Linked DNA regions of Homo sapiens: region 1 is linked to region 2. Evidence: fine-mapped expression QTL. A gene starts in region 2. The other region holds a variant in brackets. All regions are shown on one strand. Distances are between the middles of the regions. Region 1 has its middle 36 kb from the start of CAPN1. Region 2 holds the start of SLC25A45 (solute carrier family 25 member 45).

Region 1 (2,900 bases), 160 kb after region 2:
AGACAGGGTTTCACCATGTTGGCCAGGCTGGTCTCAAACTCCTGACCTCAGGCGATCTGCCCGCCTTGGCCTCCCAAAGTGCTGGGATTACAGGCATGAGTCACTGCGCCTGGCCAACCCGGCCATTCTTATCCCCTTTCCAGGCTTCGGTTTTCCTCTGTAGCACTTACTGTCTTCGAACATACTATACGATTCGTTATGCATGCTGGTGATATCTCGCCTCGCTAGAACATGGACTCCAAGGAGCAGGGCTGTGTTCACCGCAACCTCTAGAGCCTCTCCTGGCACTAGGAGGCTCTCTATCAGGCAGTGGACCAGTGACAGCTTGGTTAAGTGAAAGAATCAAGATACAGAACAGTGTGCGCAGGAACAAACATGAGGGGAGGCATATATGTATGGAGGGTCACCACACTTGTGCGGTGGGACCCGAGGCAGGGCATGGCCTGTGGTGGGAGCTCCAGGGCACTCGATGGAATCTCTACAAAGTCGTCTTTACAGGCGGAGATGTCCCCAGACAGTGCCCGGCCTCTCCAGCCTCAGGAAGTGTTAAGAGGCTGGGCAGTCTCTGATGCGTGTGTATGTGTGTCTGTATGTGTCTGTGTGTGTCTGTATGTGTCTGTGTAGGTGTTAGAGCCCATTCCAGCACGAGGTGGACCTCAGACACCTGTTTCAAGCCATGGCTGGATGCCCACCCTGCAGAGTGAGCTGTGTAGGCTGGGATTGGCTGAGATCCCGCTGTGTGCTGGGAGAGGGAGGGGAGGTCAGGTGTCCTGGTTCTCTGGTCCCAAGATTTCTTCCTGACCCCTGATATAAAAGATCCATCCTGTCTTTGCACAGCTGATGGTGGCAGCAGTTTCCGTGCCCAGTGGTGTCCCCAGGAGCAAGCTAAGTAGTTAAAATGAAACATAGGTAGGTGGCAGGCCTGTGTCCTGGGTGGGCTTCCTTCTGCCCCGTGATGCTTTCTCCTAGGACCACCCAGGGGCTGCCCAGAACCAGCCTAGAGTGAGGACTGAGCCTGCCACTTATCACTTGGGGGCGCAACACTCCAAGCTGGCATCCAGGAGCCAGGTCTCCACCATGAAGCTGAGGAATCACCAGCCTTCATAGAGTCATACAATTTCAGGGCTGGCTGCTGCCCTGGGGACCATCATGGCTCACTCCTCTCCTGTGTCCCAGTGGCCTCTGTGTCCCCACACTAAGCCTGGAGACAATAGGTGCTTAGTAAGTGGTTATTGTTGGCTAATTCACAAATAAAATAAACCTAACCCTCTCAATTTACAGATGAGTACACTAAAGCCCAGACCTGGGAAAGGCCATCCAGGGACTCCCCACCCACAGCCAGCA[G/A]GGCCACCACTACCCGGGAGCCCAGGTCCCCCAGGTCCAGAACTCTGGCGGGAGGCTTTGAGTTGAGGTTGCTGGATGAGAATCCCAACAAAACAACATGAGAAAAATGTCCGATGACCCTCGACGTTGCCACCCCCCTGTCCCCCCGCCCCCGCCCTGCTCTTTCAGGAGCCCCCGCCCTTCCTGGCCTCTCCTCGGCTGGACTCACCAGGGAGACGGAGTTGAGGATGATGCCAGAGAAGGTCATGCCCATCAGGAACCGGAAGACGCAATAGGCACTGAAGGAGCTGAAATACGCTGTGGCGGCCCCCGAAGCTGCCAGCTGCAGGTAGGACCAGACCAGGGGGCCCTTGCAGCCCAGCCTGAGTCCAGAGAATGGGCACAGGCATTAGGGTTTTGGGAGGCAGCAGCAGCATCCCCCAAGGAACAAATGGGCAGCCCACGCCTGCCCCTTTCACCCGAGCAGGGGATTATCAAGGCAGTCCCGGGGAAGATGGGGTACCCCGCGAAAGCCACCCTTCCAAAACAGAAACTTGAAACTGCTGGGACCCAGGCTTCGTGGCAGAGGTTGGTCACAGACAGAGGGACATAGTGTAGAAGGAAGCTGGCGAGGAGATTTAGTCCGGGCTCGAGGAAAGGCAGGGATTCTGCAAAGCCCCAGAGGGGCGTGTGGCAGGTGGGGAGAGGTCACCTGAGCACTGCTGTGGCTGGAGGGAGGCCTCGAACCAGAACTCACAGCGGGTGAGCCCTTGGCCAGTCCCTGGTGTGGGAGCAGGAGCCAGGGTGGAGTCATTATGTGGACCAGAGGGTTGCCATGCCACAGAGGGGCCCAAGGACAGGATGGCAGGGTGATCTGCCCTGTTTGCAAATGAGGGTCCAGGGCCAGAGCGCACAGCCTCAACTTGGCCAGCAGGGAAGCAGGCCAAGAAGACAGGCAGCTTTTCTTCTCCACACACTCCATGACCCACTCGCTTGCTCGCCCACTCACTCACCCACCCACTCACTCACTCGCCCACCCACCAACCCACCCACTCACTTACCCACCCACCCACTCACTCACCCACCCACTCACCCACCCACTCACTCACCCACCCACCCACTCACTCACCCACCCACTCACCCACTCACTCACCCACCCACCCACCCACTCACTCACCCACCCACCCACTCACCCATCCACTCACCCACCCACTCACTCATCCACTCACTCACCGACTCACTCGCTCACTCGCTCACTCACCCACTCACCCACCCACTCACTCACCCACCCACGCACTCACTCACCCACCCACGCACTCACTCACCCACCCACTCACCCACCCACCTACTCACTCATTCACCCACCCACTCACTCACTCACTCACCGACTCACTCGCTCACTCATGCACTCACTCACTCACCCACCGAGCCACCCACCCACTCACCCACTCACTCACCCACCCACCCACCCACTCATTCACCCACCCACTCACCCACCCACCCACTCACCCACCCACCCACTCATCCACTCACTCACTGACTCACTTGCTCACTCGCTCGCTCACCCACTCACGCAC
Region 2 (2,900 bases):
ACGCCATGCTTAGGTGGGCTTCCCTTCAGCAAGGCTGTAGGGAAGTGGGAATGAGGGTCTTTCTCAAACTGGGGTGAGGCGGTGAGATTGGAAAAGAGAATGAGACCCATTCTGAAGTGAGGGAGGAGGCGGCCTCCAGCCTTTAGAGCTGAGAGGCTTAGACATCAATTAGCCCGACTGCTGTCCTACTTTGGCAAACAATAATAGACCCCAAGGCCCACAGAAGAGGTTGCTCAACATCACTGAGAGAGATAATGTAACCGCCCATTGGGTTCACCTTACCCTCTGCCTAGACAGAGCCAATTTGTCAAGACAGGGGAATTGCAATAAGGAGAGTTTAATTCATGCAGAGCTGGCTGTACGAGAGACAGGAGGGTTTTTTTTTTGTTTGTTTGTTTGTTTTTTTTTTTTGAGACGGAGTCTCGCTCTGTTGCCCAGGCTGGAGTATAGTGGCATGATCTTGGCTCACTGCAACAGCTGCCTCTCGGGTTCAAGCGATTCTCCTGCCTCAGCATCCCAAGTAGCTGGGACTACAGGCGCCCGTCATCACACCCGGCTAATTTTTGTATTTTTGGTAGAGATGGGGTTTCACTATGTTGGTCAGGCTGGTCTCGAACTCCTGACCTCAGGTGGTCCTTCCGCCTCGGCCTCCCAAAGTGCTGGGATTACAGGCGTGAGCCACTGCGCCTGGCCTGTATCAGTTATAGTTTTTGCAAAGGCAGTTTCAGGAATAAGAAGCAGAACCAGGACTGCAGCCCAAGCCACCACGAGAGGCCAGTCTTTGGGGATGGTCTTTTAGGATGATCTTTGGGGGTGGCCCAAGGAGCCCCAGGCAGCTCCAGAGGCAGGAGGTAGGAGGTCCTGTTTCCCGAATCTGTCCACCCGGGAGAAAGCAGCAGGGGTGGGTGGGTTCTGCCTTGGCCACAGTGAGAGGAGAAGGGAGAGAAGGACTGGGCCTTGGGCGTCCCCCATGGGAGACTAGGAGCTGCGGGGAGATCTGGAGGGGAGGGTGCAGGTGTCACTGGGCCTTGATGTTTCCCAGGGCCGTTTGGTGATGGGAAGAGGGAACTGGAGCCCCAGGCTGCCGCTGATGCTGCTGGCTGACATTTCCGTTCATTCAGTCACTCAGGATTTATTGAGAGCCCACCCTGTGCCACCCGCTGTGCACAGAACACCCAGAGATCCCTGTCCAGACAGACAAGTTCTTCCCATCGTATGTTGGCGTGATAACTGTGATGGAGAAAGAGAGGAAGAGCCAGCAGTGCCTCCGGCTGGGGAGGCGGGGCAGACCTCACCCAGGTGGTGACATTTGAGCCCCAGCTGGAGGGGTGCCAGGGCAAGAGTGCCCAGGAAGAGGGAAGAGCCAGTCCACAGGCCTGGAGACAGAAGGCTGACTGAAGAAGAGTCTGGAGGCTCGGGTGGCTGCAGCAGAGAAAGCAAGGGGGTGGGTGGCAGGACGTGAGGTCAGAGGAGAATGGGCGGCACCCTGTGGCTCACAGATCCTTGAAAGGGTTTTGGTTTTGACTGAGCAGAATGGTGCCATTGCAGATCAACACGCACTTTAAATAATCAAAACCCCTATCTTTCCCCTGGGAAGGAGGAAGCCGAGGAAGGCTGTGTTTCTGACTCACACGGGGGAGTCGGGGGAGTCGTAAACAACCCTGAAGAGAACAGCCAGGCCTGGTGAGTCACTCCTGGGAGTGGCTCCTCCCCACCCTGCCACGCAGCGGCAAATGCGGGCTGGGCCTACCCCCTGGTGGCCACGCTACCTCCGCACCCGGCCTCTCTCTGTGGCATGGGGGCGGCCATGCCCCTTGGTGGAGATGAATGGGAGTGGAGCTGGGCTGGCTGGGCAGGCAGGGGCTTGCCTCTTGCTGACTAAGGCAGCCCTGGAGGGGCCCGACCATGGGGCAGGAACCCAGTTGCCATCCTCAGAGCGAGGATCATTGGCCGGGCTCGGGGATCAGGGCCTCTGTGGTCCCGGCACGCCTGGCCCGTGAGACTGTACTCTGCACGACTCCTCCAGGTGGCCAGGGTCACCGGAACTGGCTCGCTCTCCTCTGCCAGTTGCCGGAGGTCTGGGCACCAGGCCAATTCTCACCTTCCCGCCAGGGTTAAACATTAGTGGGAGGTTATCAGCGTGGGCCAGGGGAGGGAGAGGGGGGAATTCAACTCTGTCTCCTCTGCTGGAGCCACCAGTTCCCGCAAGCCCAGACAATGCCGGTGGAGGAATTTGTGGCTGGCTGGATCTCTGGTGAGACATTTTTCTTCCTTCTGTCACATCACACCCAATGGTAGGTCACTTCCTCGGGAAGATGGGTGACATGGGAGGAGCAGAGACCAAAGTCTGAGTTCCGGCCTGGCGGGAGGATCACTTGAGCCCAGGAGTTTGAGACCAGTCTGGGCAACATAGGGAGGCCCCTGTCTCTACAAAAAAATCAAAATAATTAGCTGGGCATGGTGGCTCACACCTGTAGTCCCAGCTACTTAGGAGGATTGCTTGAGCTCAGGAGTTCAAGGCTGCAGTGAGCTATGACTGCACCACTGCACTCCAGCCTGGGTGACAGAATGAGACCCTGCCACAAAAAAAAAAAAAAAAAAAAAAAAAGAATCAGGGCATGGTGGCTCACACCTGTAATCCCAGCACTTTGCGAGGCTGAGGTAGGAGGATCACTTGGGGCCAGGAGTTTGAGACCAGCCTGGGCAACATAGGAAGACCCTGTCTTTATAAGAAATGAGAGGCTGGGCGCGGTGGCTCATGCCTGTAAGCCCAGCACTTTGGGAGGCTGAGGTAGGTGGATCATGAGGTCAAGATTTCGAGACCAGGCTGGCCAACATGGTGAAACCCCGTCTCTACTAAAAATACAAAAATTAGCCAGGCGCGGTGGCGCACGCCTGTG

What was found. PIP is the estimated chance that this variant, and not a neighbour inherited with it, causes the effect. A credible set is the group of variants that fine-mapping cannot tell apart.
Region 1: its variant is the best candidate, but not a certain one, in a credible set for the expression of SLC25A45 in whole blood (TOPMed, PIP 0.73).

The regions. Positions count from the first base shown.
Region 1 is chr11:65,216,341-65,219,240 of GRCh38, reverse strand. It overlaps the pseudogene SLC22A20P. Among named protein-coding and RNA genes, the nearest start is that of CAPN1, 36 kb to the right of the region's middle. RefSeq lists enhancers at 1,402-1,965, 1,966-2,529. The variant G/A (reference allele first, on the strand shown) is at 1,345.
Region 2 is chr11:65,381,269-65,384,168 of GRCh38, reverse strand. SLC25A45 (solute carrier family 25 member 45) reads left to right here and starts at 1,523. Exons shown (of 7, transcript NM_182556.4): 1 at 1,523-1,683; 2 at 2,200-2,254. The coding sequence starts at 2,218. It also overlaps a transcript of FRMD8 not described here. RefSeq lists a silencer at 97-391 and enhancers at 303-829, 1,158-1,357, 1,368-1,677, 1,577-1,871, 1,358-1,885 and 4 more.